Linked DNA regions of Homo sapiens. The protein of the gene in region 3 interacts with the protein of the main gene of each other region in a pairwise test. Each region holds a gene or a part of one and is shown on either strand. Other genes may lie near its edges.

The links.
Region 1: the proteins of ASPH (region 3) and UGT2B11 interact in binary tests that used the Homo sapiens proteins (3 or more experiments, as listed by UniProt).
Region 2: the proteins of ASPH (region 3) and KCNIP1 interact in binary tests that used the Homo sapiens proteins (3 or more experiments, as listed by UniProt).
Region 4: the proteins of ASPH (region 3) and GAL interact in binary tests that used the Homo sapiens proteins (3 or more experiments, as listed by UniProt).
Region 5: the proteins of ASPH (region 3) and INSL5 interact in binary tests that used the Homo sapiens proteins (3 or more experiments, as listed by UniProt).
Region 6: the proteins of ASPH (region 3) and FKBP7 interact in binary tests that used the Homo sapiens proteins (3 or more experiments, as listed by UniProt).
Region 7: the proteins of ASPH (region 3) and KCNIP3 interact in binary tests that used the Homo sapiens proteins (3 or more experiments, as listed by UniProt).

The regions. Positions count from the first base shown.
Region 1 is NC_000004.12:69,204,749-69,209,120, reverse strand, and holds part of UGT2B11 (UDP-glucuronosyltransferase 2B11 precursor), read left to right. Parts: intron 1-638; coding exon 639-770; intron 771-3,553; coding exon 3,554-3,641; intron 3,642-4,372. UniProt on the Homo sapiens protein: UDPGT is of major importance in the conjugation and subsequent elimination of potentially toxic xenobiotics and endogenous compounds.
Region 2 is NC_000005.10:170,733,403-170,737,331, reverse strand, and holds the end of KCNIP1 (A-type potassium channel modulatory protein KCNIP1), read right to left. Parts: intron 3,497-3,929; coding exon 3,434-3,496; intron 1,574-3,433; coding exon 1,526-1,573; 3' UTR 700-1,525; downstream 1-699. UniProt on the Homo sapiens protein: Regulatory subunit of Kv4/D (Shal)-type voltage-gated rapidly inactivating A-type potassium channels. Regulates channel density, inactivation kinetics and rate of recovery from inactivation in a calcium-dependent and isoform-specific manner.
Region 3 is NC_000008.11:61,644,540-61,648,911, reverse strand, and holds part of ASPH (aspartyl/asparaginyl beta-hydroxylase), read left to right. Parts: intron 1-2,033; coding exon 2,034-2,162; intron 2,163-4,279; coding exon 4,280-4,312; intron 4,313-4,372.
Region 4 is NC_000011.10:68,687,352-68,692,355, forward strand, and holds the end of GAL (galanin peptides preproprotein), read left to right. Parts: intron 1-489; exon of another isoform or gene 490-652; intron 653-662; coding exon 663-749; intron 750-1,440; exon of another isoform or gene 1,441-1,497; coding exon 1,498-1,575; intron 1,576-3,565; coding exon 3,566-3,636; 3' UTR 3,637-3,824; downstream 3,825-5,004. UniProt on the Homo sapiens protein: Endocrine hormone of the central and peripheral nervous systems that binds and activates the G protein-coupled receptors GALR1, GALR2, and GALR3.
Region 5 is NC_000001.11:66,797,867-66,802,896, forward strand, and holds the start of INSL5 (insulin-like peptide INSL5 precursor), read right to left. Parts: upstream 3,411-5,030; 5' UTR 3,356-3,410; coding exon 3,181-3,355; intron 380-3,180; coding exon 147-379; 3' UTR 1-146.
Region 6 is NC_000002.12:178,467,989-178,472,360, reverse strand, and holds part of FKBP7 (peptidyl-prolyl cis-trans isomerase FKBP7 isoform a precursor), read left to right. Parts: intron 1-836; exon of another isoform or gene 837-924; intron 925-2,575; coding exon 2,576-2,709; intron 2,710-4,372. UniProt on the Homo sapiens protein: PPIases accelerate the folding of proteins during protein synthesis.
Region 7 is NC_000002.12:95,380,355-95,384,726, forward strand, and holds part of KCNIP3 (calsenilin), read left to right. Parts: intron 1-1,241; coding exon 1,242-1,349; intron 1,350-2,022; coding exon 2,023-2,127; intron 2,128-2,877; coding exon 2,878-2,940; intron 2,941-3,647; coding exon 3,648-3,695; 3' UTR 3,696-4,372. UniProt on the Homo sapiens protein: Calcium-dependent transcriptional repressor that binds to the DRE element of genes including PDYN and FOS. Affinity for DNA is reduced upon binding to calcium and enhanced by binding to magnesium. Seems to be involved in nociception.

The DNA.
Region 1 (4,372 bases), on a different chromosome or scaffold from region 3:
GGAATGTCAGTGATTCTTAACCACCAGCTTTTATTTTCATTTTTTATTTTTTGAAAAACTACTGGAAAACTCTGACAAACTTTAAGTGAAGCATAAAGCATTGTAGAGGAACATAAATGTAGATATAAAATTATCCCAACTGTGAATATCTTTTCCTCAGTGCTCATATTTAGGGAAGTAGACCACTAATGGCTTCAAACTAAAAGAATTCTACAGAAAACATGCCTGAAATAAACACAAGTGATTTAGTAGAACAAAAACATAGGATTAAAGCCGAGTGGTGCCACTATTCCAAGAACTTATATTAGTAATTATAGTATTATAAGTGAAGGGTCTGGGTATATTTTTTAACATTATCTCCCTGACTACAATGTAATAGCTCCATTTCTTTCCTCCATTACACACATGCAGACACATACATACATATACACACATATTTACACAAATATCCTTAACAGAGGCCAACTATCTCAAACATCTTCTTGCAAAGAAACTGAATGATTCAGTTAAAAAATATTATTAATTCCAATAATTCCTCAAAATACTTGATTTTCTCTCTTTAATATTTGGTACCAATTCTTTCAGTAGTGCCTGCTGTGGTGATACTCTTTTGTGATGAAACAATTTTTTTTTCACAGGAAATGGAGGAGTTTGTACAGAGCTCTGGAGAAAATGGTGTTGTGGTGTTTTCTCTGGGGTCAGTGATAAGTAACATGACAGCAGAAAGGGCCAATGTAATTGCAACAGCCCTTGCCAAGATCCCACAAAAGGTAAGATAAAGGGCCTTACTGGTGTGGAAAACTGCTGAAAGAGGCTGTTAATGTTTGTGATCTACATAGAAAGAATATTAAGAGTAGAGTGAACTCTTTACATCCAAATACATCCTTAAATATGCTTATGTTGCTTCCACCAACACAAGTAATAGTTGTGCCTCAGACTTAGTGGTTACATGTGGCCCTGGGGGAGTTACTACCCTTGGTATTCATGAGTGGCTCCTATTAGTATCAGTGGGAACTCAGTACTCCGTAGGTATCCACAACAGGGAACTTGAGACTCATGGTTATTTTTAATTTCTGATATTAAGAGTCATACATACTGCTGAAATTAACTGAATATATTTCAGGTAAGTGAAAATGGTGCCTAATGTAGTCTTTAGAATGACTTTCAAGTGTTTTCAACTAAAAATATATATCCAGAACTGCATCTTTGTAGAAATACAAGGAAGACTTATGATCATTTTCTTCAAAGCTGTTTTGCTAATCTCAGCAGTATCCAATGAGTGAAGAAGATTTCACTTACTCTTGGGCCACCTCTATTACTTACCGTACTCTGGAAGCTCTTGGTGAATGTTTACAATTAAGGAATGTACTATTTCTGTTTGTACTTTAAGTCAAATGCTTATGTGAAATATGTGACAACAAATAGAGAACACTGCCTGAAGCAGGAAGATGAAAGAGAAAGGATGGAGATGGATCCTGACCTGAAGGTGGATCCTGTACAGTATAAAATATGGTCCCACAAGGACTCAGCACTAACTACCAGATTAACAACTCCTCCCAATGGAGGCAGCAGAAGGAAATATAGGAAGGAGTCAAACAGAAGGAAGAGAGGCAGGGGAACAGGTTCAGATGTCCCCTCCATAGAACATAGTAGGAATATATTTTCTTCTGTATAGAGTAAACCAGGGACCTTTGTGTATTTGTGAATGACTTTTTAATTTCCTATCTGATAAAGCTTTCTTGTAATGACCTCTAACTTTTTGCTGAAACCTGAGTTACTTTAACACTGATGTAGCAAATAAAAGTTAAACACTGCAAATTATTGTTCAGTTTGTGAGGATTGCTTTGGAGTTTCAAAATTAGTAACTTAAAATAAGAATGTCTTGGCTATAGCAGAACATATTAATCACTGTTGACAAAGATTTGTAGCACGTTATCTAAGTGTTAATAATCAGTTGACCAAATTTAGCAAAGTACAATTTTGAGTTTATTCATTAGCTTTATTTTTATTCATGATACCAAAAGGTTCCTCATTTCTAGGCCAAAAAAAAATCCAAAATTAACAATAATGGTAATATTCTGAATTTGTGTCAAAAATTGTCGCTTGAAATTTTTCTGGGAAATAGTGCTTGATAATTTGTAATTCCAATGAAGTTATACATAAAATCTTGGCAGCATTTATTTAGTTCTTATAAGTAGCTTATTTTATAGACTTGCTATTTTGTCAATCAAAGGACAACAGGCTCCAATATAATAACCTACCGACAAGTAGATACATTTAAACTACTTCTCATATTATTCAAAAATAAACGAATACATTACAATTAAATTTGGAGATGAAAACTAATATAAAATACATAAAACAAACATACAGGTCATTACTAAATAGTAACTGTTTTATTACACTAGAATTACAATCACTCCATATAATTTTTTACACTTTTTTTGTAATATTTTTATTTTTTAAATTAAATTAATTTAACTTTTATTTTTAACTTTTAAGTTCAGGAGTACATGTGCAGGTTTTTTACATAGGTAAACTTGTGTCATGGGGGTTTGTTGTACTGATTGTGTCATCACTCAGGTATTAAGACTAATATTCGTTTATTATTTTTCCTGATCCTCTCTTTCCTCCCACCCTCCACCCTCCAATACATCTCAGTGTATGTTGTTGCCATCTATGTGTCCACGTGTTCTCATCTTTTAGCTTCCACTCATAAGTGAGGACATGTCACATTTGGATTTCAATTCCTATGTTAGTTTCCTAAGGCTAACGGCCTCCAGCTCCATCCTTATCCCTGCAAAATACATATTTTTGTTTTTTTTATGGCTGCATAATATTCCGTAGTGTATATATGCCATATTTTCTTTATTCATTCCATAATTGATGGTCATTTAGGTTGACTGCATGTCCTTGCTATTGTGAATAGTACTGCAACTAACATATATTTTCATGGATCTTCATAAAAGAACCAGTTATAGTCCTTTGCTTATATACCCAGTAATGGGATTGCTGGGTTTCATGGTATTTTTGCCTCTAGGTTTCTGAGGAATGGCCACACTGTCTTCCACAATGGTTGAACTAACTTACATTCCAACCAACAGAGTATAAGCATTCCTTTTCTATACAACCTCGCCAACATCATGATATTTTTTGAATTTTTAATAATGGCCATTCTGATTGGTGTGAGATGCTATCTCATTATGGTTTTGATTTGAATTTCTCTAATGATCTGTGATGTTATTTTTCTTCATATGATGGTTGACTGCAGGTAGGTCTTCTTTTAAAAAGTGTAACAATTTTTTGAATATTTGAACTTTTCATTGATAGTCTTATTTTTCTATGGTACTGTTTTGGAAAATCATGGTTTCTTATATATCTAAATCATTATAAAAGTTAAGAAAATAAAATGTGAGTATTCTTTTTACATCAATCTTTGAGTAGATTTATTTACTAACATCCCTTGATCTCATTCCTATGCTTTCTACAGTTCTAACATTCTATAATTTTTGAGTTCCACTCATGGAATAAGATATTCTCTTTACTGTAACAGGTTCTGTGGAGATTTGACGGGAATAAACCAGATGCCTTAGGTCTCAATACTCGGCTGTACAAGTGGATACCCCAGAATGACCTTCTAGGTAACACTCTGGTGAACAAATACTGGATATATTAGTAACTGCACATTAGAGGGTTAATGAAACATGCTTATTGAATATTTGTTATAGGAAAACAAAAAAGAACTTCTTTGTATTTATTTTCCAGTCCTAGGGGAAAAGAATATGGTAGAATTGTTGGCATTTTATGATATATAATCACATTCTTTATGGTCAGAATCAGAGATAATCTTTATTTCAGGTGCTATTATATCTCACAGAATTTTTCAATATCTTCCTGGGCTGTCTCTCTGTCTCCTGTTTCTACAATTTTACACCTGTTTTCTCCTCTCCTGCAGGATTATTTCAAATGCCAGTAAATATAATAGCTCTTCTATCACCAGTAACTCTGTATTTTCTGGAGGACTAAATTCCTAATCTTAATCTTAAAGTAACGACACATTTCATGATGAAGTGTGACCTGTCTTTCCTCAATCCTAGCACCACCACCAACCCACTGCCTGCTGCCTTGCATACCCCGCATATCACACTCTGTGACTGTAGTTAAAATAAAACTTTATTTCATGCCCATCTCTTTGCTGTCCTCTTTTGTGCACATTTAAAAAATCTAGAATGCACTTTTCATTAGTCCAACTGAAAATCTTGTATTAAGTTTTGCAGTCTGAAGTCACACACACCACATAGCTTTCAGTTACATCTCCTAAACAAGTACGTGCTTTTTCATCTGAAGTCTGAAAAGTAATAGCAAATTAGTT
Region 2 (3,929 bases), on a different chromosome or scaffold from region 3:
TTAGCTTTTAGTCTTTCAAATGTGATGTCAAATGGGGAAACTAAGACCCACAGTGTTCAACATGAGTAATCATTTGCTGGTTATAGGCTGAAGCCGCTTGATGGTCCTCTAGAGCCTAAAATCTCTCAGCAGGAGGCCCCGTCATCCTCTTTATCTCTGCACTCCCACTCACACCACAGGGGCTCCAGGCTTTCCATATCAGAGGGTCTTAGAAGTGGCAATCTTGTTGGAAGCAAAGTGTTGTGAAGGGTCTTGTCTCGAAGTTGCATTTGCATTTGGTCACAGTATTTGCATTTGGATTGGATGTTTGCTGGGGAAGGCTTGGGGGCTGGGGAGGATGAAGTCATTGCCTGGCACAGGCCTGGCACAACGTAAGTACAGTTGACCCTCCAACAACATGAGTTTAAACTTATTGGGTCCACTTACATGCAGATTGTTTTCAACCAAAAGTGATAGAAAATGCAGTATTTATAGGATGTGAAACCTGCATATATGGAGGCCAAATTTTCTGAAAACACGAGTCCCTCAGGGCTAGCTGTGGGACTTGAGTATCTGCAGATTTTGGTATGGAGAGTCCTGGGACTGATCCTTCACACATATGGAGGGACAACTGCACTAATAATTGGGTGTCAAATGAATGGACTAGCCTTCCCTTTTCACAGCTTACCTCTCTTACCTAACGGAGTCATGAAGAAGTGATTGAGAGTGTAAGAAATAGTTCTGTTTATTGGTTAGAACATGGTATAAAATTACAGCAATTTGCAGGCATTCTGGACTTCTTGGGAGGGACATGCAGCGCTGGGCTCAAGCAGGGGATGTGGTGGAGATATGGACCACTGGGCAATGGCTCCCTTCCTGGACATATTAAAGGACTTGTACTACCAGCACAAATGCCAGTGTGAGAGAATTATTGGTCCTCGTTTCTGGAAACAAATGACATGGGCAGTTTGGGTCATCAGACAATATCATGCTTAATAATTCAGTCCTATCCCACATATGTTAGGTGCTGGCTCTCCCAATCTGGTCATGACAGATCCTAATTGTTCTGGATAACTCTCATTCTTCCCACCAAAGGAAGAGAAACAGGCACATTGGTTTGGGAGGCCATCAGAGATGGTGTGCATCTGGCTCAGGTCCTCTTGCTTCCAGATTCACCAAGGTCTGCCTGACTTGGAGGCAGTGGGCTGGGGGCACGTAAGCAGCATATTTTGTGCACTACTGTTTAAGCTTAAGCAGAGGGACCTTCCATAGGGCAGCAGTGTGAGGAGATGAGCATGCTTCCAAAACAAACTCAAATTTCATCTTGTCTCTCTCAAGAAGAAGAAAGAGGAAGAGTTGGCAATCAGAGACTGAGCCACATGATGCTGGGTTCCATAGAAAGTCTTCAGCAGAGAATTCTTCCAAAGTGTAAAAGGTGTTTCTGTCCCAAGAGTTGGTGTGTAAAATCAGAACAAGGGCAGATCAGGGTGTTAAGGTGGTTGTTTAGTACAATGTCTCTGAGAGCTGAATGGCTGAGTGTCACCAGTTACATGACATTTTGAAACAGCTGGAGAGACCTCATGATGTTGTCGTCCTGGGAAAAAAGGAGGGCAAGAGGGTTAGAACTCTGAGTCTCCTCCCTGAGAGCTCTGTAACTCTGGTGAGCAAATGTCAAGCATGGGTTTCCTATATGGAGAAAACTCTACAAGGGTATGAAAAACAAGAAGTAAGGGTGGGGACCTAGAAAGTGATCAGTTCAAAGTAAGAAGCACCACCTGTAGCCTTAAAGAGGAATTCAGAAGAAACAAATCATCTAGTAAAATAGTGAGTTGCTTCTTTTAAGAAGCTCTGAACAATTACATCCACTGAAATGATTATATTTTTTCTCTTTTTATTCTATTAATGTGATTAATTACACTGACCAATTATTGAATGTTAAACCAACCTTGCATTCCTGGAATACTGCTTTAGATCCTACAAATTTTGATAAGTCATATTTTTATTTTATTTTTATTCGAGATATTTTCTTCTCTGAACCATGAATTAGAAGTGTATTGCTTAATACCGAACATTTGAGGATTTTTCTACATTCAATACTATACCTCAGAGAAGAAATAATAGAAAAATGTAAAATACAGAACATGCAATAGAGACATACAGTAAGAAAACCCCCCAAAGCGCTCTCTTTCAAAAAAATCAATAAAGTAGATAAATGCTTATTAAGACTGCTTTTCAAATTATCAATATCAGAAATGAAAAGGTTAATGTCAGTATAGGCTTATTTGGCTCATTATTCTGGCAGCTGGAAAGTTCAGCTGGGCATCTGCATCTGGTGAGGGTTTCAGGCTGCTTCCACTCACAGTGGAATGTGAAGGGAAGCTGGGTGTGCAGAGATCCCATGGTGGGAGAGGAATCAAGGTTGGAGGTGGGGAAGGTGCCAGGCTGTTTTACAACCAGCTCTCAAGGGAATTAACAGTGAGAACTCACCCCCAAGGGGGTCAGTGTTCATTCCATTCTAGTTGTTAAATATCTTGGATATCACCCTGCACATAGGACATCTACATAACAGGGTGGCTGTGATGTTTATGTATGTGCTTGAAACTTGATGGGGGCTCAGTATCTGCTAGGAACTTCTCCCCGGCTTTCTTACATTTGCTATTCTTCTTGGCTGGAGCTCAGAGTAACTCTGAACATTTCTAAAATAATGTGGGGGTACAAATGGATTTCTCAAAAGTAGATGAAGCAATTATTTCCAGTTCAGTCTCTGGTGGACTCTGGGGCTGGTCTATTGGTTAGACTTAATGAAAGTTGTGTTCCCAGGATCAGCATCACCAGTGTGACTGGGGAGAATGTGAGAAAAGTAACATCTCAGGCCCTACCCCAGACCTATGGAATTAGAATCTGCATTTTAACAAAATCATCAAGGATATTGTTTCACACATTAAAGTGTTAGAAGCATTGGTCCAGGACATTTGTGTTAAAGTGACCCAGATCTAGAGTCTCTGGGATTGAGGCCTGGAAATATGCATTTTCAGAATCATTCCAGGCAATTTTTATGCACACTGTGGTTTGAGAATCACACAATTGTAGGTTTTTTTCCCCCCAGCTGCTTCCTTGTAGTCTGGGAAATGGGTCATCAAGCCAGAGGCAGGCTAAAAAATAATGGTGTTGCCCTCTCGGGAAGTCTATTTTCACAGAGACCCCCTCTGAGTTTTCACATGCCCCCAGACCCCTACTTAGGCTCTCTGTTCAGTCTTGTGCTTAGCCAAGACCAACTGCAGGTCAGGTTGAGGAGTGGAACTGTGGACTTCACAGTTGTTGCTGGTGTTGTTGGCTCTGATGGGAGGGGTTGCAGGTATGTGCAGGTTTCTCATCACCTTCCTTCTGCAGGTCCCCAGGCCCCAGGTTTCCTTTCCCAGATGTAGAGTTATTGTGCCCTGAGATCTCTCCTTACCTCCTGACATGATTCAAGAAATTCATCTAAAGTTACGATGCCATCTTTATTTTTGTCCATTTTCTGAAAGACATAACAGAAAGCACTTTACAGAATCTGGTGATCTCCATTCCAAAGCTTACTCCCCTGCTTTCTTGCTGGAGCTCAGAGTAACGAGCTGGAGCTCATTTCATTCATTTCATTAACCAACTTTGCCCTGAGAATGAGAGTTGTCTTTCACTGGCCAGACAACTCCAATTAGGTCCTGATTACAACACTTTGAGCCCCATGAGCTTCCTTAAATCAAAAGACTTGCTCTGGACACTCATCACCTCACTGCTGGCTTATTCTGCTTCTTCTGTAGACTCCCTGCTACCCTGTCCATCTGGCAGAACACTGGGCAAAAGAGGTTCTGATTCTGGCCTGTTACTTGCTGTACAAACTTGCACAAGGCCAGAGAGGACTCTCTTTTCCCATCTGCAAAGTGGGAGGTTGAACTAGAGTGAACTCTTGATAT
Region 3 (4,372 bases):
CGCCCAATCACATCTTTCAGACTGAGCATAACCTCCCTGCCCCCATCATGGTGCATTCACAACTGGATTCAGGTCCTGTATCTGCCATTGATTAGCCATGTGGCTTTAGCACAGTTTTTCAAGTTCTTCATCTTTCAAAGTAGGATACCAGTACCTGCTTCACAGGGAGGATATAACAGCTGCAGAGGGCTTGGCCATGCCTAGAGTCTCATGACCCCTTAGGAAATTTTTCATGATGAGACTCAAAGATAGTGTTCAATGTTAGACTGGTTTCGCTACAGAAAACAGGAATACTTCCACTGAACAACCGCATACGAAAGCTAAATCCTGCTAGTGTAAAAATCATCAGATTTCACTGGATAGAATGAAAGAAGAATAAGGAAAGAGGAATATGATAAAAATAAAAAGAGAAGTAAAATTTGTAGCAGAAATTCAAATTGGTGATTTGCTGAATAGCAGAAAATCTAAAATGAGGAAAAACAGTATTGCAAGCTATGAGGAGAAGATAGAAAACAAATAGCATCAACATAAATAGGCCTGCCTGATTCTCTAACACCTGAGAGCATTGCCTTGCCACGCTAAAGGGAGAGTAACTAAGGAAGGCTTCTTGCAGTCTGGGCTGGGGTTGTGGGGTAGGGGGATTCAGTAGCAGTACAAATGACAATGTTGTTATTACTGTAATAATGGTGATAATGACACCTAAATACTTAGGGCCAGGCATTTTTCTAAGTGTTTTAATCTTCATAACAATGTTACAAATAGATATTATTCCCATTTTATGGGAGGGAAATCTGTGGCACAGGGTAGTTAAGTAATTTGCCCACAGTCACCCAGCTGGTATGGAAGAGCCTGAATCTACAGCCATGCATCCGGACCCCATACTCGTCCTAATCCCTGAGCTGCACTGCAAAGCCAAGTCCTGCCCATTCACTTTCTTTAGAGTATTATACACAGGAGATACTCTGCTGGAAGCCAGGTCAAGTTACATTGGGATGCAATACCCAGTCTTAACCATGTTGCAGTGGAATCATGCAACATGTCCAACCTCTACACAAAAGAAGCAGAGCAGTTCAATATATCATAGAAGTTAATCACAGAAGAGAAAGTGGGCATCTTTGCATAACTTGAAGCCTAATAGGAACATTTGAATGCATAGTATGATTCAGGTAAACCTGTGACCTAGCATATAATTTATTTTTATTTATTTTTAATTTAATTTAATTTATTTATTTATTTATTTTGAGACAGAGTCTCACTGTGTCACCCAGGCTGGAGTGCAGTGGCACCATCTTGGCTAACTGCAACTTCTGCCCCCCAGGTTCAAGCGATTCTCCTGCCTCAGCCTCCCAAGTAGCTGGGACTACAGGCACGTGCCACCATGCATGACTAATTTTTGTATTTTTAGTAGAGATGGGGTTTTACCATGTTGGCCAGGCTGGTCTTGAACTCCTGACCTCAAGTGATCTGCCTGCCTCAGCCTCCCAAAGTGCTGGGATTATAGGCGTGAGCTGCCATGCCTGGCCCTAGCATATAATTTAGATAGGTGGCTAGTCACTCTTTGCTATAGAATATTTGAATAGTCATTTAAAGTTGTTACCTGGAATTCTATGTCAATTCCCAGGAAAAGGCCATAGAGTAGCCTTTTCTTTGACCTGAGGATAATTGAAGAGGCAAATATATTAGTAATAATTATGAATTCATTTATTCATTCATCAAATATTTATTGAGTGCTTCCTTTAGCTAGACATGGCCCTAGGTGACTGGGAATATATAATGGATAAAATATATAAGCTTCCTGTCCTGATGTGTAACATCCTAATGAGAGGAAACCTGTCCCCCACCACATATACTTAGGCAGATTAGCACTTGGCCAGAGGAAGAAAATAGCTGTGGAGTGGACAATGGTGTCTTCAGCGGCCGAAAGGAGGGGCAGGGGAAGCCCCAGCAGCAGGAGCAGGTGTGTGGCAGCCCTTCACAAGGGGCTTTCATGTCTCAGTTGTATGTTGCCAGTGTCACTTTGTTCATTGTCATAGTTGAGGGAGAAGACTTGCAACAAGAAGATGGACCCACAGGAGAACCACAACAAGAGGATGATGAGTTTCTTATGGCGACTGATGTAGATGATAGATTTGAGACCCTGGAACCTGAAGTATCTCATGAAGGTAGAACACTTTTTTTTCAAGTTTTAGGATAAAATATAATCAATGACTTCTAATTACTGAAGTTTTTCTTAAACCCCTTTAAAACTGATATTTAACTTTTGCTTAGATTTTTAAAAGTTGAAGCTTAAAGCTTCAATTAAAGCAAATTTTTTCTTAAAATAGATACCTTGATTTTGGTTCAAAGCACTTTTCAGGGAAACTCAGAATATACAAATTTCTTATAAATAGTGAGTCAAATACTTGAGGAAACTAGTTTTACTATATTCTTCTGCTTAGGGTGCTATTTGTTAAATAAAATTCAAACAACTGATGAAATATTGGACTTGATAATCTATCACAGGCTCATGTTCACACATGAACTCTGTAATTACAGTGAGCAAAACACAATTCTTAGCTTCTGTACCAGGCATTGGCAAACTTTTTTTTGTAAATAGCCAGAGAGTAAATATTTCAGGTTTTCTGGATCGTACAGACTCTGTTCAGCTACTCAACTCTGCCATCACAGCGTAAAAGCAGCCTTTGATAGTTCCTAAGTGGGTCAGTGTAGCTGTGTTTTTATACAACTTATTTGTAAAATCCTACCCAACATGGCTGGTAAGTGCAGCGGCTTGAACACAGCTCACTCCAGCCTTGACCTCCCATGCTCAAGCAGTCCTCTCACCTCAGCCTCTCAAGTAGCTGGAACCACAGGCATATGCTACCATGCCCTGCCAATTTTTAAATTTTTTATAGTGGCAAGGTCTCCTTATGTTGCCCAAGCTGGTCTCAAACTCCTGGCCTCAAGCAATTCTCCTGCCTCAGCTTTCCAAAGTGTTGGGATTGCAGGCATGAGCCATTGTGTGTCCAGTTAGCAAACACTTTTTAAAAGCATAAAAATGAAAAGTAGTTTATCTACTTTGCACAATACTAAATATTTTGGAAAATTACTTTAGCAGCAGGTAGCTCCTACTTTATGAGTACATGTATTTCCAAAAACTTATATCCATGCCTATTGTTTAGAACAGGAAATGCACTTTCCCATAAAAATATGGGATGGTTTGGTTTTCAAAAGAATTGTATATAATGCATAATTTTCTGTGAAAAATACAAGCACACAATCCTTTTGAACATCTATATGATTTATTTTTGCTGCATTACACATTGAAAATAAGCACTTATAGACTACCTTCAGAACTTTATGCCTTTAGTAATCATTTATGTCATGATTTCTTTGGGACAAGGTTTCCAGTTTCTGAGTAGGGATACTGATAAAATGATTTCCACATTTCCTGTTGCTTCTTCTCTCCAGTCTTTGGCCTAAATGGCTCAGTAAGATTGACAGTTGCTCAGAATTTTTCTATCTACATGCTGCTTATACAACAAATTTCAGTTAAGATGCTGAAATAAACAGAAGCATGAGGAATTTGATATTCTTAAAGTTAGGAGTCACAGATTGGGAGTAGGAAGAAACACTTTTAAGAAGTTCACAAATTGCAGAAACCTTACTTTCTGATCTCATCTTTAATTAGGACATAGATGCAGTTTGAACTTAAAAGTTGGTTGTTAAAAGTCTTCAGAAAATAAAAATATTTATTCTTTATATATGCATTAAATAAAATTAGCAAGGTCATAAGTGTGGTGACGGACAGATAGCTCTTCTGCTATCTGGGGTGTATGGGTTAAGTGTTCAACACATTTACCCTTCAGCTCCCTAAGGGTATAAAGCCTCTTCAGCTGTTTTTCTCTGTTCCCATCCATAGTTGCTGTACTTTCGCTCTAGAAAATGGTAGGACAGGTCGAGGAGATAGCACATTCTAGTGGGTTGTGAAGTGGATTAGAAATGAACGGCTTTCCTGGTCTGGCCTGTGTCACTCTAAGTTGTCCTCTCTCTTTAGTCCAGGGGGTGGTGGTTGTCAGCCTTGTGGGGATGAGTGGACTGAGAAGGAGAATGTGTGAGACATCCCACAGTGTACTTCTAGTGAAATATAAAAGTGTTAAGCAGACTTTTAATTGATAGTCCCATTTTTTAATTTTTTAAATAAAATTAATGATAAGCATAGATTCAGAGTACATATACGGGATATATACATACCATTTTGTAAAAGCAGTAAATATCAATCTAATTTTTTTTTTTCCAGAAACCGAGCATAGTTACCACGTGGAAGAGACAGGTGAGATTTTAATTTAATTCTGTTCTTAATTAGAGTGAGTCTTCCTTTAAAAGGGCATCA
Region 4 (5,004 bases), on a different chromosome or scaffold from region 3:
TCCCTGGAATTCTGGGATCTCTGTGCTTGCAATCACAGTTCCTCCATTTTCGCACCACGAAACACACCCACACACACACGGGAACGCACACACGCTCCTGCACCCCCCACCCCCATCCTGTCTCCCTCTGTGACCCTCTCGCTCCCTCTGTCTCTCTCCTTCTCTCTCTCTGGCTCCAGTCCATCTTGCACACAGCTGCCAGAGTGAAAATAAAAATCAGATTCAGTCACAACTTAAACTCTTCAGCGTCCCCCATGCTTTCAGGGACATGAGGACCCAGCTCCTGTTGTCTGCCAGGGAGTCACCCAGTTTGATGCCAGCTCAGTGCCAGCTCAGATGCCAGCTCCTCTGGACCCAGGCGCAACCCCTGCAACAGGGCAGGTTCTGGGCCTCTCCCCCACTTCAGGAGCCACACCTCCCTTTCTCCCACCCACCCTGTGCAAACCCTCACATTCCCTTTGACCCTGGTGTGAGCGGCCAAGCTCTTACCTCAGCTGGGTGGAGAATCGCTCCCTCTGCTCTGGTGTCTGTCCCTGGGCTCTATTTCACAGTCGAGTTGCGTGTGTGTGTTGGCTACAGGCAGCCCTGTGTCCTTCTTTGGGTGTGGGGAGGGCGTGCATGACAGTCACACCCAGAGGCTTTCCTCTCTGATCTGCAAACAGATGCCGTTGGCAACCACAGGTCATTCAGCGACAAGAATGGCCTCACCAGCAAGCGGGAGCTGCGGCCCGAAGATGACATGAAACCAGGTGAGAGGACTCCTATCCCGGGCCCCGGGGCACCTCACTTCCACCAGCTCCCAGGTGCATGCAGGGGACAGCTGTGGGTGTCGGGGCTGTCCACAGCTGCAGCCCAAGCCTGGCCATGACTTGACTAAGACGATGTGGCCTCGCCACACCTGTCAGCAGCTGCAAACAGAACGTGCAAACCCGAGACAGCAAGGGGTCCTTCTAGGCTGGGAGGCTGCCCAGGCACCAGGGCCTCCAGAAGAGCGGGACTGGGCACGATGGCTCCTGCCTGTAATCCCAGCACTCTGGGAGGCTGATGCGGGTGGATCACCTGAGGTCTGGAGTTCAAGACCAGCCTGGCCAACATGGCAAAACCCTGTCTCTACCAAAAATATAAAAATTAGCCAGGCGTGGTGGTGGGTGCCTGTCATCCCAGCTACTTGGGAGGCAGAGGCTCGAGAATCACTTGAACCTGGGAGGCGGAGGTTGCAGTGAGCCAAGATCATGACACTGCATTCCAGCCTAGGCAACAGAGTGAGACTCCATCTCAATTAAAAAGAAGAAGAAGAAGAAAAGCGAGGCCTCGAACTGGATATCTCCCCAACTCCCTCACATTGAACAAGGGCCTTGGAAAGCACAGCAGGGCCTCAGGCTGCTGGGATCAGATCATTGACCTTGCAGCGCCCAGCTCCTCTGTAGGGAGGGGGATGACCTGAGACACTGAAGCACCCTCTGCACAAGTCGTGAATGTTGATCTTTTCTCTTCTAGGAAGCTTTGACAGGTCCATACCTGAAAACAATATCATGCGCACAATCATTGAGTTTCTGTCTTTCTTGCATCTCAAAGGTATGTGAAATATCATCAACTTAACATTCATCTCTTAGTACACTGGAAACGTAAAAGGCCCATCGAGAAGAGAACCCATAGAATCCCCCTGGGAAGTAGCCGATTACTTATCTACGTACAAAGTCCTGTTTGGCTGTGTGTCGGGATAACAGAGAATGTAACACTAGAGCTAGCTCCAGAGGGCTGGGATTGCGGCAGGGGCATTCTACCGTCGTGGAGGGCCATCGGGCCAGCGCTGGTCCCAGGAAGAGAGTGGGCCTCAGGGTGCAGCTCATTCTACTGGAACCATATCTATTCACACGGTGACAACTGCTGTACCTTTTAGGGCAGAGGTATACTACAGGCCAAGTTCTTTGTGAACCGTCCTAAACCTTTTCTCTTTTCTTTTTTCTCTGTCTTTTCTTTCTCTTCTCTCTTTTCTTTCTTTCTTCTTTCTCTTCCTTCCTTCCTTTTTCTTCCTCCCTCTTTCTCTCTCTCTTTCTTCCTTCCTTCCTTCATCTCACTCTGTCGCCCAGGCTCGAATGTAGTGGTGCAATCTCAGCTCACTGCAGCCTCTGCCTCCTGGGCTCAAGTGATTCTCGTGCCTCTTCTTCCCAGGTAGCTGGGAAAACAGGTGCGCACAATTATGCCTGGCTAATTTTTGTATTTTTAGTAGAGGCTGGGGTTCATCATGTTGGCCAGGCTCATCTTGAACTCCTGGCCTCAAGTGACCTGTCTGCCTCAGTCTCCCAAAGTGCTGGGATTACAGGCGTGAGCCACTGTGCCTGGCCCTAAACCATATTTTCTAAGCATGGGAAATTAATAGAAGCCCATATCTTAGACTGCAGTGTTTCTCTATGCAGCCTTCCTGCCAGGCAGGCTGCCTTGAAATCTAACTGGAAAGGCTCTGATCCTGGCTTCCAGTGTCTTCTGCAAACACTGGGGATGAGGAGACCTCCGCACACTACGCTTGGCATTCATTCTACGATGGGCATCTGGCCTTGATCAGATAACCACACAGGTCCTACTGCAGCAGTGGAGGGAGCCGGAAAGCGGCCCCGGTGCTCTGAGGGTTAACAGGGAGGTGGTGGTGGGGAGGAGGGATGGACCGCTTTGCCTCTCCAGCAGAGAAGACCTTCACCTGGTGCTCTGAGAGTTAAGGGGGAGGCAGTGGTGGGGAGGAGGGATAGACCGCTTTGCCTCTCCAGCAGAGAAGACCTTCACCTGGTGCTCTGAGAGTTAAGGGGGAGGTGGTGGAGGGGAGGAGGGATGGACCACTTAGCCTCTCCAGTGGAGAAGACCTTCACCTGCTGCTCTGAGAGTTAACAGGGAGCTGGTGGTGGGGAGGAGGGATGGACCGTTAGCCTCTCCAGTGGAGACCTTCAGTTGCACATCACAGTTTTGTCCAGTTTTGAAAAATCAAGGCTAATCCTTGGGTTCATTTTGGATCAGGATGTTTTTCATTTGCAGTGTTATCGGGCTGCACTTTAGGTGGCGATGGGGAGAGGGAAGAGGAGTGAGGGGAGGGGAGCGGGGGAAGGAGACTGCCAGAGAAGGTCTTGGAAAAGGCGGTGTTCATTAGAAATCTCAAAACCGAGTCACCAAGTTCCCTCTGTTGGAGCCCAGTGGAGCCTCTGGGAGAAAAGCTGGGGTGACTTTTCCTACAAGGGGCAGAGGGACTCTGCTAGATTTTTGTTTTTCATTTGTTTTTAATTTTGTAACATGGAAACTCTTTCCTTAGGATATACCAGCTCTCATTACTCAGCTAGGAATTATACCTCTTTAAAGCCTGAATTTAAAAGTCTGACAGTTTTAAATGCTTACTAACTGTGGGAGTTAAATCATTACGAAGTGAGGAATACAGAGTGTTGTCCCTGATTCTGGGTTTAATCTGGTAAGAATCTTTACAGAGGACGACCACACGCCGCTTCCTGTAGCATGTGTCGTGGTTGTAATTCTCTCATGTGCATATTAAGAAGTTGCTGCTCAGATGTGGCTCTTCCCTTTGCAGAGGCCGGTGCCCTCGACCGCCTCCTGGATCTCCCCGCCGCAGCCTCCTCAGAAGACATCGAGCGGTCCTGAGAGCCTCCTGGGCATGTTTGTCTGTGTGCTGTAACCTGAAGTCAAACCTTAAGATAATGGATAATCTTCGGCCAATTTATGCAGAGTCAGCCATTCCTGTTCTCTTTGCCTTGATGTTGTGTTGTTATCATTTAAGATTTTTTTTTTTTGGTAATTATTTTGAGTGGCAAAATAAAGAATAGCAATTACTTGCAATTGTCTTTTTCTTCCACACCTCTGTCTCATCACCAGCGCCACCCATGGGTTTTAAAAGATAAAGCTTGATCATAATCGTGGATTAGACATGAATTTTAAACCCAAATTCTACCGTCAAGAGCATCTGAGACACCACCTGTTATTGCATGTCCAGGGGACATAAATTTATCTCCATATTAAGCTGAGTCAAATGTAATTATGAAGGTAAGTCTGTTACTGAGATGAACAAAAACACAAAACAGACAAAACCCCTGCCCTCGTGGAGCTGATATTTTAGGGAGATGGGAATGAAAAAGACTACAACAACCTTAAACAGATGGGTGAGTTGCGTGGTACTCATGGAGGTGGTCAGTGCTGAGAACAGACGTGTTGGCCAGGTGGGAGGGCCAGGAGCAAGGCAGGAGAGGAGAGATGGGCGGGCAGGTAGAAAGGCAAGGGCAGGAGGTGTGTGCAGGGATGGTGCTGTGTGAAGGAAGGCCTGTGGGAATATCTCTTAACGTGACAGAGACTGAGTCTTTTGAGCAGAGATAAAAAGATCATCCCAGAAGTTTCGAAAAGAAGGCAGGCGACCTGTCGCGGTGGCTCATGCCTGTAATCCCAGCACTTTGGGAGGCCGAGGTGGGCGGATCACTTGAGGTCAGGAGTTTGTGACCAGCTTGGCTAACATAGTGAAACCCCATCTCTACTAAAAATACAAAAATCAGCCGGGCATGGTGGTGCACGCTTGTAATCCAAGCTACTTGGGAGGCTGAGGTTGGAGAATCATTTGCTCCTGGGAGATGGAGATTGCGGTGAGCCAAGATCACACTCTAGCCTTGGCGACAGAGCGAGACTCCGTCTCAAAAAAAAAAAAAAAAAAAAAAAAAAGAAGGTAGGCGAGGGGGAAAAGCCGGACATTTCTGTCAACGTGGGAGGTGGTACACAGGCCTTTTTGGTTTCACCAGAGCTGGCTGTGCGGTGGGAGTGGGAGGTGGTTTCCCAGTTTCCCCCCATTGGCAGTTTGCTGCCTAAGACCTGTTTCAAGGGGCACAGAGCCCTGGCATCCCTCTCCCTGCTCGGTGACCCCCCCCTCCACCACCAGTCAGCTGTGCCCCAGCTCCACCCTGGCTGCCTCCCTCTCCTGCAGGCTCCACGCTCACGCTTGGTGGCCTTGGGTCGCCGGCGCTTCAGACC
Region 5 (5,030 bases), on a different chromosome or scaffold from region 3:
GCTCAGCTATACCTTTTAGAAAAGAAGTTTTGCCTACCCAAAAGCCATCATTTTAATAACACAATATTAGTGTTCTACCAGGCAGTAAAACACTGTAATTAAACATGTGATAAAGCTCTGCCACCCATTGGGTATTTGCTCTTGTCTTAGCAAAGAGCACTCAAATCAGTCATGGAACAGCCATCAGTGCAACACAAAGTTTGTAAATCTTGTCTTGACATCACTGAATGCTTCTTTGACTTCCAAAGCTCTTCAGTGGGCATCTGTCCACCCCAAAGACGGTCTTCCCCTGAGGCATCCACCTTCGGAAGGTTTTGCGCTGGATTTTCCTCAGAAAACTCACGTTTATGTGGGAGCTGGAAGGAGTTTCCTGTCTCAGCTGTATGGAAGAGAAAAAAATAATACATCCTTAGACAGCTCCTACAAAGAAGGCAGCAACCACATTCCACTCCTGGGGAAATGAACTGGATCCCTAAAATGAAATAGAATCATACACATAATTTTTTAAAATGTTGGCCTGGTTTCAGAGAGATTAGACATTTTGGGGAGAGCACAGTCATCTCCACTGTCCTCATTTTACAGAGGCAGAAACTTGAGTGCAAAGATGAGGAGTGACAGTCAGTGTTGCTCAGCTAGTCGGGACTTGACTTCTTTTACTCGCTACCTCTGCTGGATGACCAGCAGCTTCCAATATTAGTTATGTGCTATAAACAAAAAACACATAAACAAAAAAAAACCCTGTGTATGCCCTGCAATCTCGATCAGTAAAGAAGGAAATGGAGATTTAAACCTCTATATCTGAAAATAAAAAGTGAAATTCACAGTTTTTGCCTAAGTGTTGTTTCCAAAGTTCATATATAAGCTTCTCTCACTTTAATTTAGTTCAAATTGACTTATCAATGCCTTAGCACACCAGCAGGCACCATGAAAAACTAGGTGAACAGATGCTGGTTGGTAAACCAGTAATTGATCAGATAAATAATGTGTGGGAAAACACTGAAAATCTGAGAAAGATTGAATAATAAGTAGTATGATTTCAGTGATGTCCAACAGAGCTAGCCTTATAGATATCCATTCCACTCCCCTATGTGTTTCAGAGATATCCCAAATGTATTTTTATAGTGCATTTTGGTTTGCTATTACAGAGATTGTTGTAAATCCTGGTAAATTATGCTTACTCTCTTAAGATTAAAAACCCATATAATTTTTGTTAGCAACTAGTCATATGAACTTCAATATTAAAGTGGTACTGAAAATGGAAAATACATGCTTTTTCAACACATTAGCCCACCCAAAGATGAACAGTTTAGGTCATTTTCTAAAAGGTTTTTATTACCAACATCATTTTAAATTAAACTGAAACCTTAACAATCATACATATAGTCGCAACATTTATTATGTAATCACATTTTTCCTTTTTAACTTTTTAGTATAAAACATAGCAAATACAACCAATTATTAAAATACACTCTTAAGCAAGGCACAGAAAGACAAACACCACATGATCTCACTGATATGTGGAATCTAAAAACGTCAAACTCAAAAATGTATAGCGGAGAACGATGGTTATCAGAGGGTGAGGGTGAGGGGGATGGTTGGGGAAGAGATGGTCAAGAGTACAGAATTTCCATTAGAAGGAATAATTTCAAGAAGTCTATTGTACAACATGGTGACTATAGTTAATAAAAATGCATTGTATTCCTGAAATTGCTAAAAGAGTAGATTTCAAGTGTCCTCATCACAAAAACATAAGTATGTGAGGTAATGCATATGTTAATTAGCTTGATTTAGCTATTCCACATGTATATTGTATGTATACCTATTTCAAAACAATATGTTGTACACAATAAATGTATATAATTTTTACCAATTAAAAAAATAATTTTTTAAATAGGATTTTCAGCCATGCCCAGTGGCTTATGCCTGTAATCCCAGTGCTCTGGGAGGCCGAGACGGAAGATTGCTTGAAGCCAGGAGTTTGAGACCAGCCTGGGCAACATTGCAAGACCCCACCTCTACAAAATATTTAAAAATTAGCCAGATGTGGTGGCACACACCTGTAGTCCTACCTACTCAAGAGGCTGAGGTGTGAGGATCACTTGAGTGCAGGGGTTTGAGGCTTCAGTGAGCTATGATTGTGCCAGCCTGGGTGAGAGGGCAAGACCCTGTCTCCAATCAAATAAATAAATAAATAAATAAAAATCTAAAAATAGGATTTTAAATAAATTCTACCTCATACTTTAATATGGAATTAACAGAAAGAATTTCAGTCAAATTTTTAAGTTAGTTGAATTGAATAATAAAGAAATATAGTGAAGTCAGCCGCTTCACCGTTTCTGAAAGACATTTGGTTCATTTCTTCCTTCAAAATCCTGATCAGACAATTCCTACTACTAGAATTCCCACCCTGCTTCCCCACCACCTTCCATAATCCCCAAATCCTTCAGGGCCTCTGTCAGTAACCACCACCTCCATGATGCTGTCACCTATTACAAAATAGGTGACATTTTGTAATAGGTGACATTTTGTAACATTCTCTTTCCCACCCGAGACTCAGTATGGAATTAGTAAAGACCTTGGCTCTTGAAGCCAGATAGACCCAGTTTCCTACCTAACCACATTTTCACCAGCTGGGAGAAGAATTTTCTTCTTGGTAAAATGATAAATGGTGGTAATTTTGCTTGCTTCCCAGGATCCTTATCAGAAAGCTGAATGAAATGTTGCACATGTAACTTCCCAGCACTTAAAAGTGCTCAATTAAGGTCAGCTTCTTTCCTTGCATCCATATTTAACAACTGCCGGAATTCTAACTTATTATATTGTACAATTATTCATGAGTGAAAGTCTTGCTACTTCAACACGCTCCTTGAAATCACATGCTTCGCCATAGCCTCCAAAGTACCTTCCACAGATGCTGAGCCCATTGAAGTAGTCATGCGATTAAATGATTTCAAGCAGGGGACTAAAAAATGAGGTAGTTATTTTTTGAAAGGTAGCATGCTCATCACTTTCCCAAGCCAAATTCAGTATATTTTGATAATTAATCCCTTAAATTGACATAAAAAATGCCTCAACAGTACTTAGAGAAACACTTAATAAAATAATGGTTTAAAACACAGCTTGAAAAAATAAAAGAGACATGTGAAAGGAAAATAGAGGAGACACATGAGTTACTGTTACCTTGCTGAGCTTGAGGGATCCCCTCCTGATGCCTTCTCCACCTGGAGCTAGCACAGATATAGATGACTGTCCGTATGTATTCTAGCCCACAGAGTCTCACAGACTCCTTGCTCCGCACTTCTGAGATGGCAAATAGGACAGAGAATAAAAACAGAGTGAAAATGGAGCCCTTCATTTTGCTGAGGACTGAATGTGAATCTGATATGGTAAATATAGTCAAATCAAATTCTGGAGTGACTGTCACTCTCTTGACCAATTTATACTAACTTTCCTGACATTTCATTGGTCAGAACCTCATTTTTACAATATTTGCTAAGCACATAGGGTTACACAGTAAAGTTTTGAAAATGCGGTTTTATGAGTATTGCCAGCTATTCAGTCTCTCCTTAATACCATCAACGCATCTGTGAGATGATAAAAACAGATGCCCTCTTGGAAGGCATTATGGAAAACTCACGGACTTTGAAAGTTGCCAAGAATGAGTTTCACTCTCAGCCTTGCTACTTACTGAGTGACATAAGGCAAGTTTTAAACTTTTTGAGTTGAGGCAAAGCCTGGTGGCTAACACCTGTAACCCCAGCACTTTGGGAGGCCAACACAGATGGATCACTTGAGGCAAGGAGTTCAAGACCAGCCTGGGCAACATAGTGAGACCTCCATCTCTACAAAAAATTTAAAAATTACTCAGGCACAATGGCATACTTGAGCCCAGGAGTTCAAGGTTACAATGAGCCATGACAGTGCCACTGTACTCCAGCCTGGGTGACAGTGAAACCGTGTCTCTAAAAAACAAACAAACAAACAAGTAAACAAAAAAACCTTTTGAACCTCAATAACCATATCTCTGGAATGGGAAGACCCATCTCACAGGGGTTTTTTTGAATATTGAAAGCAATATGAATGTCAGAACAATGGGATATCACACTTAAGTAGGCAATTTCTTATGTCCTGAGTTTGAATCCTGGCCGTTGCTGTTGCCTGGCTGTTACTTACCAGATCTAGACTCTTAAGCAAGTTTTTAAGGCATCCTTCTTTGTAAAATAGTGTTGATGATTGTAACTACCTCATAGGTCTAATGTGATAACATGCGTCCCACTTGGTACAATAAACAGCTAATAGGCCAGGCGCAGTGGCTCACGCCTGTAATCCCAGCACTTTGGGAGGCCGAGGCAGGTGGATCACGAGGTCAGGAGATCGAGATCATCCTGGCTAACACGGTGAAACCCTGTCTCTACTAAAAATACAAAACATTAGCCAGGCGTGGTGGTGGGCACCCGTAGTCCCAGACACTCAGGAGGCTGAGGCAGGAGAATGGCATGAACCCGGGAGGTGGAGCTTGCAGTGAGCTGAGATCACGCCACTGCCCTCCAACCTGGGCGACAGAGCGAGACTCTGTCTCAAAACAAAAACAAACAAACAAACAAACAAACAAAAACAAAAAAAAACAGCTACTAATTATTAGCTGCTTCTCCTCTCACCATCAGAATAGAAGACTAGAAAAGATAACTTCAGAATTCAGAAGATTTTATCTGACTAGGATCTTGTTATCCTTCACCTATGACCTAGGTACACTTTTCTCAACACACGTATTTATGATAATAGAAAGCTAAGTCCATATCCCAAATAGCTAAATAATGAAATTTCTCTTTTGGTAAAACCTCTGAAAGCACTAGCTCTTGCAAAGGTCTTACCTAAACTGAGAATCCCAGAGTTTGGGATCTTAAAGAACTGTTGACTCAGGTTTTAGCAAGTTGAACAAATAATGGTTCAGTTGATTCTGTGAAATCCTTGTCTGTGATTCCTGGTTGGAAAAAAATTGCTAAGTCTGTGGCCATGATCATATCATTTGT
Region 6 (4,372 bases), on a different chromosome or scaffold from region 3:
GCGTATAGCTGTAATCCTAGCACTTTGGGAGGCCGAGGTGGGTGGCTCACCTGAGGCTAGGAGTTCAAGACCAGCCTGGCCAACATAGTGAAACCCCGTATCTACTAAAAATACAAAAAATAGCTGGGTGTGGTGGCTTGTGCCTGTAATCCCAGCTACTTGGGAGGCTGAAACACAAGAATCACTTGAACTCGGGAGGTGGAGGTTGCAGTGAGCCAAGATCGCGACACTGCACTACAGCCTGGGCAACAGAACAGATTCTGTCTCAAAAAAAAAAAAAAACGAAAAGAAAAGAAATTTGAATTTGTGTTTTGAGTTTGCCTTGAATTATTGTCAGGAGACAATAATTCTGTCATAAGGAGATAACTGGAAAAAATAGGAATGGGTTTTATAAAACAATCATTGACTCAATCTCTAGCTCTTCTACTCTAAAGTCAGGTAATATGTGGTGCATTAGGTTAGGACTTTTATGTTAGTCATATGATGCATGGGTAGATCTTTCTATGTTTTCTCTTTGAAAACTACTAATCTGCTACTCCTTTTGGCTATAACTCACAAACTCTTTTCTCTTCAGACTATATAAAGACTTTAGCTAGAATGCTTCACTTTTTTATTAAAGAAATTGCTGTTTCCTTCCAAGGACAAACATTTTAAAAATAAATGATATGGGTCATTCATTCGGCAAATATTGGACTGCCTGTAGTAGATTAGGCACTGTGTAGGACACTGGCAATATACTGATGACACAAGCTACCCGCTGCCCCTTAGCAAGTCATTTTTGCAAGTCACTTTTATGACATATTTATCTGAAATAGCCCATCACTTATTAAAATCACCTGTGACATCATGGCCTGGCACGGTGACTCACGCCTGTAATCCCAGCACTTTGGGAGGCCAAGGTGGGTGGATCCTTTGAGGTCAGGAGTTTGAGACCAGCCTGGCCAACATGGTGAAACCCCATCTCTATTAATAAAGTATAAAAAATTAGCCAGGATTGGTGGCAGGCACCTGTAATCCCAGCTGCTCGGGAGGCTGAGGCAGGAGAATTGCTTGAACCTGGGAGGCAGAGGTTACAGTGAGCCGAGATCGTGCCATTGCACTCCAGCCTGGGTGACAGAGGAAGATTCTTGTCTAAAAAAAAAAAAAAAATCTGTGACATCAGCTAATAGGTTAACTTAATTAAAGAGAGCAATTCTGGCCAGGCACAGTGGCTCACATCTGTAATCCTAGCACTTAGGGAGGCCAAGGCAAGCGGATCACCTGAGGTCAGGAGTTCAAGACTAGCCTGGCCAACATAGTGAAACCCCATCTCTACTAATAATGCAATGCCTGGTGTGCACCTGTAATCCCAGGTACTCAGGAGGCTGAGGTAGGAGAATGGCTTGAACCCAAGAGGCAGAGGCTGCAGTAAGCGGAGATTGCACCACTGCACTCCAGCCTGGGAAACAGAGTGAGACGCCGTCTCAAAAAAAATAAATAAAAATAAAAATAGGTATTCAACTTATTGCTTAAAAATGTATACAATTTCTTTGTAAAATTGTTACTGAATTTTTATTTTAATTCTTTTTTTTTTTAATAGAGACAGGGTCTCACTATGTTGCCCAGTTTGGTCTCAAACTCCTGGGCTCAAGTGATCCTCCTGTCTCGGTCTCCCAGAGTGCTAGAATTACACGTGTGAGCCACTGTGCCCAGCCTGTTACTGGATTTTTCTATCATTGCACTTATTTTTTAATGTCTATAAAAAATTTGAAAGACAAATATATTAATACTTATGTTTTATTTATGCTTCCAAATAACTACACAAAATCACTTTCTAAAAGATGACTCATCTATGCTTTGCAATTTTTCTGCCCATGCATTTCTTCTCTGTGCCACCTCTCTTCTGTGTTGATGATAGGAGAGTACAGTTGTCTCTCAGTACCTGTTAGAGATTGGTTCCAAGACCTTCTCATGGATTCCAAAATCCACAGAAGCTCAAGCCCCTGATACAAAATGGCATCACATTTGCACATAACCTCTGGACATCTTCCGGTGTACTTTAAATTATCTCTAGATTACTTATAATATCTAATACAATGTAAATGTTATGTAAAAGATTGTTATATTGTATTGGTTAGGGAATAATGACAAGACAAAAGTCTGTACATGTTTATTACAGACACAACTATCCTTTTTTTGTATGAATATTTTCAAGCCGAGACTGGTTGAATCCACAGATGCAGAACCCACAGATATAGAGGGTCATATCCATGCATTAATAAAAAGTTTATGATTTTTACTTAAATTAATCAAGAAATAGTGGTCCCATAGGTCCTTTGAATTGACTTGGTTTGGAAACATATGGAAAAAATATTCCTAAAAAAGTATTTATAAAAAAAAGAGAAAAAAAAACAAAAAAGAAAACTATTGAAAAGCCGAAAAAAGTTATAAAAGATGAGAAAAAATTAAAAATTGTGAGTATTCAGATAGCAATTCTTATCAACATGAAATAATATAATATGGTTATGGCAGTTCATGAATAGATATTTGAACTATATCTTTACATAAGTTAAACTGTTAAAATTTATACCCTTAGCAGAAGGCAAGATTCCACCGGATGCTACATTGATTTTTGAGATTGAACTTTATGCTGTGACCAAAGGACCACGGAGCATTGAGACATTTAAACAAATAGACATGGACAATGACAGGCAGCTCTCTAAAGCCGAGGTAATTCAAACCAATTTCATGTGTATAGTCTAATTTTTTTATCACAGTTTAAATACATCTGTGTTACAACTATTACTTTTTAGGTCTAGCTAGCATGGGCTCTGATCACTGCTTTTATAGAGCTGGTCACTAAAAAATAATCTAAGCGCTTAGAAAAAGCTCTAAGCTTTTTCAGTATAAACCTTGTGAGTCATCCTGTTCAATTGCCTTTCTCCCTGCAAGAGAGTCATTAAAATCCCGAATTATTTGTCTCTACAGTGCTCTTCCAGTTTCTAGATTACACTAGCATATCTCTTTTTCAGACAGCACTGTAAGAATTTGCAACAGGGCAAATAATTCACGCCTCATAGGATGATGAAAAGAGCTAGCAAGGGTCTGAATTGAGTGGGCTAGAAAGTTGGTAAACAGGAGCCAGAAGTTCAGCCAGCTAGCGTCTGTATCTCAGCCTTGTAATAAAGATCTTGTAATAATAATGATAATTGGGCTGGGCATGTGGCTCATGCCTATAATCTCAACACTTTGAGAGGCCGAGGTGGGAGGATTGCTTGAGCCCAGGAGTTCAAGACCAGCCTGGGCAACACAGGGAGACCCCCGTCTCTACAAAAGATTTAATAAATTAGCCAGGCATGGTGGTGCATACCTGTGGTCCCAGCTACTCAGGAGGCTGAGAGGTAGGAGGATCGCTTGAGCCCAGGAGGTTGGGGCTGCAGTGAGCTGTGATCATGCCACTGCACTCCAGCCTGGAAGATAGACTGAGACCTTGCCTCCAAAAAAAAAAAAAAGATAATAATAGATAACATTTATTTTATACTTTTAGTACCAGGTACTATTTATAAGCACATAAGTATGTGAACTTATGTAATCTTCATGATAGTTTATGGGGCAGACACTATTGTCATCATCTTCGCTTTTAGATGGGGAAAATAATAATCAGGTTAATCAGCCAAAAATCACACAGTAGTAAGGGGCAAAACCTGGGCAATCTGGCTTCATGACTGTTCTTACATTTCAATTTTTTAAATTTTTCTTAGAGACAGGGTCTTTCTCTGTTGCCCATGCCAGGGTGCAGTGAAGTGATCATAGCTCACTGCACCCTTAAACCCCTGGGCTCAAGCGATCCCCGCAGCATGCCACCATACCCAGCTAATTTTTTTTTTTTTTTTAAGAGATGGAGTCTCACTACATTGCCCAGGCTAGTCTTGAACTCCTGGCCTCAAGTGATTCTCCTTCTTCAGCCTCCCAAAGTGCTGGGATTACAGGTGTGAACCATCATGCCCAGCCCACTACTATATTTTTAACTTTGGGCCTAGACTGCTTCTTTCAGAGAAAATCATGAATGTTTCAAGTCTAATACTATTTATTGAATTCTAATGTCTTACTTAGTCCCACTGACGATACTCCTGCTTAAAATTAGTAAACCAGCTGTCTCCCCTCTTAACTAGTTAGGAGACATTTAAAAATGTGTAACTCTACCACATAAGTAAGTAGTAAAAGCTAACTAGGTTGATTTCAAGTAATAAAAATAAGTCTTTTTCTCTGTTTCTTTTTCATCTCCCTCTCCAATCCTTTCCCCACCCAGTTCAACTTCTTACACCAGGATATTAGTAATGACTTTCCCTTCAGGCATCTTGGTTGGCCAACAGTGGAAGAAGGAGAAGGGAAC
Region 7 (4,372 bases), on a different chromosome or scaffold from region 3:
GTCTCTCTCATGGTACAGACTTCTTCCAGTCCCGAAAATCTAACACTTGAGGGGCCTCGGGGCCTTGGTGCATGGCCCTGTCCCTTGCACTCTGACCGTCCTCTGTCCCACTTCGCTGGTACAGCCCCTTTCTCACCCCTTTCTTTCAGAGTAGCCTGGGAGGACCCCAGGGTGCAGGGAGGGTTTCACCTTTAAACCTTCCAAGAGGTAGGGGGAAAACCTGCTTTCTACCAACTGCTGTAACAAAACAGTTGAAGTTGTCACATGGAAACCATTTAAACAGCCATATTCTGTCATATTAGTAGTAAAGTTTCCCATGCCAAAGGCGATGGCCACACACAGCATGTCATGACTCAAGAGTTGAGCACCAGGTTTGGGCGAGGTGGCCCTGGGATTACACCTGTAATCCCAGCACTTCTGAAGCCCAAGGTAGGAGGATTACTTGGGGCCAGGAGTTGGAGACCAGCCTGGACAACATAGCGAGACCCCATCTCTATAAGTATAAAATAAATTAGCCAGGCATGGATTATTCCGAGTGGTCCCAGCTACTCAGGAGGCTGAGGTGGAGGATCGCTTGAGCCTGGGAGTTTGGGACTGCAGTGAGCCATGATGGCGACTGGTGACAGTCTGAGACTCTGTCTCTAAAAACAACAACAAACAAAAAGCTGAGCATCATTCCTCTAGCTATTTAATCTGGAAGTTTTCAAGCACCTTTGCCATGCAGATGCTTGGCAGAATAAACATAGAGCACCTCCTTTATTAAAAGAGTACCCCAGGCGTCTCCAGCGGCAGCACTGCATTAAATGGGTCTAGGACACCATATATATTTGAATATCTTTCTCTGGCATCAGTATCAGCTACCATGCCACTCCTGCCACACATGCAGACACATGCGCATGCACTCACACAGGTTCACACACTCACACAGGTGCACACACAGGTGCACACCCTCACAGGTTCACACATACAGATGCACACCCTCACACAGGTGCACACCCTCACACAAGTTCTCACACAGGTGCACACCCTCACACAAGTTCACACACACAGGTGCACACCCGTGCATGCGCTCACACACGGGCACACACTCACCCTGTGCTGACCTGAATGGATGCCGTCAGTCTCTTAGGGAGGCTCTGTGCCTGTTGGAGGCGTGAATTTCAGTGGAAGCCACACAGCAACTGGAACTAGAACCTGGGCATTGATTGGATGTCACGCCCCACACTCTCCTTTCCCCATAGGACTTTGTGGTTGGCCTCTCCATCCTGCTGCGGGGCACAGTCCACGAGAAGCTCAAGTGGGCCTTTAATCTCTACGACATTAACAAGGATGGCTACATCACCAAAGAGGTAGTAGGGGGCTGGGGGCAGGGATTGTCCCCTCCTCCCCTCCTGCTGCTCCACCCCTCCCGCCGCTCTTCCTCTCCCTGCTCCTGCTGCCCACCTGTCTTCTCCCGCTGTCCATCCAGAGACTGGCCCCAGGGACAGCAGCCAGTGGGCTCTCCTCTCCTGGGCTCGGTCCTGGACACCCCGGTGTGGAGTGTGGGTTCAGGTACCCTGTACCACACATCTCGGTCCAGCTCAGCAAGTGTTCTCGGTCATACTGTCTTACACAAAAGGCCTCGGGGAGATTTAAGTGGAGAAGCCAGAGGTCCTGGCCTTGGCCCCCATCAAGTGAAGGGGGCAGTGCGGTCCCTTAAGGCATGGGTGGAGAGGGGAGCCCTCGCACATGGGCCCACAGACAGGTTTTGTTTGGTCCAAGCACTTTTTCTGCTGCCGCGTCACATTTTGGAGATAAGCACATAGCAATCCATCTCCCACTTCTCTGGGAGATGAGCTTCCCCTAGAGTCAGAAGCTCGCTCTGGGTGCCCTGGAAGCGGACAGGCTTCTCTCTCCAGCTCGTCCGGCCCCTCGCACTCACTGCCTTGGAGGTGCCCTGCACCCTTGGATGCCGCCCGCTCCCTTTGGGCCCTCACAGCCACCCCGGCCTTGCAGCAGGCTCATGCCAGCCTCCCCCTCCAGGAGATGCTGGCCATCATGAAGTCCATCTATGACATGATGGGCCGCCACACCTACCCCATCCTGCGGGAGGACGCGCCGGCGGAGCACGTGGAGAGGTTCTTCGAGGTGAGCGAGCGCCAGCCCTGCCTAGGGAGGGGAGCCTGGCAGAGGAAGGGGCTCTCGCTTTTGGGGCCACCCCGGGCAAGTGGCTTGCCCCTCTGAGCCTCCCTACTCCCCATGAGGAGGTTAAACTTGCCCCTCCAGTCTGGCTGGTTGTCAGAACCCCTGAGAAGTGAACTACACCACTGCTCTGCCCTGTGGACCTCATCTGGGGGCCAGAGCTGGGGATCCTGAGGCAGCTGACCCTGGGCCGGAGCTCCATGCCTCCTGAGAGCTGTGTGGCTCCTCCAGGAAGACGCTCTGGGAGAGGAGCAGGTTGGGGGCCTTCACCTGTATGCATGGCGGCTGCAGGGGCTGCAGGCTTTGCCTCCTACTTGCTGGGGCCACTAGACATGGGCCATCCTGTGACTCAGTTGCTCCCTCTGCCCTGGCTGCCTCTCAGGGAGGTGAGGCGGTCAGATGAGCATGGGGACAAATTCTGGGAAACCCAAGCCCAGGAGGGCTCAGGGAATTGGCCTAGGGGAGCAGTGGGGAGATGCTTGGAGCCTCAGCAGTTGGTTGGGAGGTGGCTATGAAGGGTGGATTATGTGGCCTGGATCCAGAGTAGTCACAGGGGACAAGTTAGAGTGGAGGGAGCCCACCCGCCCATCCACCCACCCGCCCATCCACCCACCCATGACTTCTGCGTCCTCAGGCCAGGGGCGGGGCTGTCTCTGCTGGGGCACAGACTCACTTTGGGCATGGCTTGGGTTGCAGAAAATGGACCGGAACCAGGATGGGGTAGTGACCATTGAAGAGTTCCTGGAGGCCTGTCAGAAGGTAGGTGGCACGGGAGGCTGGGCCACAGTTCTCTGCAGGCTCTACACGGAGGTGGGTGGTTGGCAGCGTCTGCCCCTTCCCTCACCCCAGTCCCACCCCTGCCAGTCCAGGATGTGGCAGCTGTCCTTGGCCCCTTGCCACCTCCTGGACAGCCCCAAGCTCCACTTGCCCTCTTGTCTGAGTCTCCTCCTCCCCACCCACCCCTGCAGCCCACAGCATCCCCCCACTACCCCCACACCCTCCCTCAGCCCAGTCCCTGGAGAACCTCAAGTTAGGGGCAGACATGGGGCCAGCCAGAGGGAGAGGGTCACCGTGGGGAGGCACCAGAGCTTCCGCAGTGTTGCTGCTGGCCCTTCCAGAGAGCACCTCAGGGGGCAGGATGCTGGGCCTCCAGCGCCTCTATTGCCCCACTCCCAGAGCAGTCCTGGTTAGCGCCCACCTCCTCTGGAGGCCAGCCGGGATCGCCTTCATCAGCTCATCCCAGATGGGCTTGCAGTCAGGAGTGGGGTTGAAGACAGGCTGTGCCTCACCAGCTGGGGACCTCGGACCAGCTACTTCACCTCCCTGTCCCCCAGCTCCCTGCACCCAATAAGACAGACAGACAGGCAGTCGCTGCAGGCTCCGAGTCCCTGGCGGGAATCTGCTCAAGGGGGTCGGATTTGGAGCCCACCCAGCACCTGAAGGCCTCCCTTCCTCTCTCCATGCAGGATGAGAACATCATGAGCTCCATGCAGCTGTTTGAGAATGTCATCTAGGACACGTCCAAAGGAGTGCATGGCCACAGCCACCTCCACCCCCAAGAAACCTCCATCCTGCCAGGAGCAGCCTCCAAGAAACTTTTAAAAAATAGATTTGCAAAAAGTGAACAGATTGCTACACACACACACACACACACACACACACACACACACAGCCATTCATCTGGGCTGGCAGAGGGGACAGAGTTCAGGGAGGGGCTGAGTCTGGCTAGGGGCCGAGTCCAGGAGCCCCAGCCAGCCCTTCCCAGGCCAGCGAGGCGAGGCTGCCTCTGGGTGAGTGGCTGACAGAGCAGGTCTGCAGGCCACCAGCTGCTGGATGTCACCAAGAAGGGGCTCGAGTGCCCCTGCAGGGGAGGGTCCAATCTCCGGTGTGAGCCCACCTCGTCCCGTTCTCCATTCTGCTTTCTTGCCACACAGTGGGCCGGCCCCAGGCTCCCCTGGTCTCCTCCCCGTAGCCACTCTCTGCCCACTACCTATGCTTCTAGAAAGCCCCTCACCTCAGGACCCCAGAGGGACCAGCTGGGGGGCAGGGGGGAGAGGGGGTAATGGAGGCCAAGCCTGCAGCTTTCTGGAAATTCTTCCCTGGGGGTCCCAGGATCCCCTGCTACTCCACTGACCTGGAAGAGCTGGGTACCAGGCCACCCACTGTGGGGCAAGCCTGAGTGGTGAGGGGC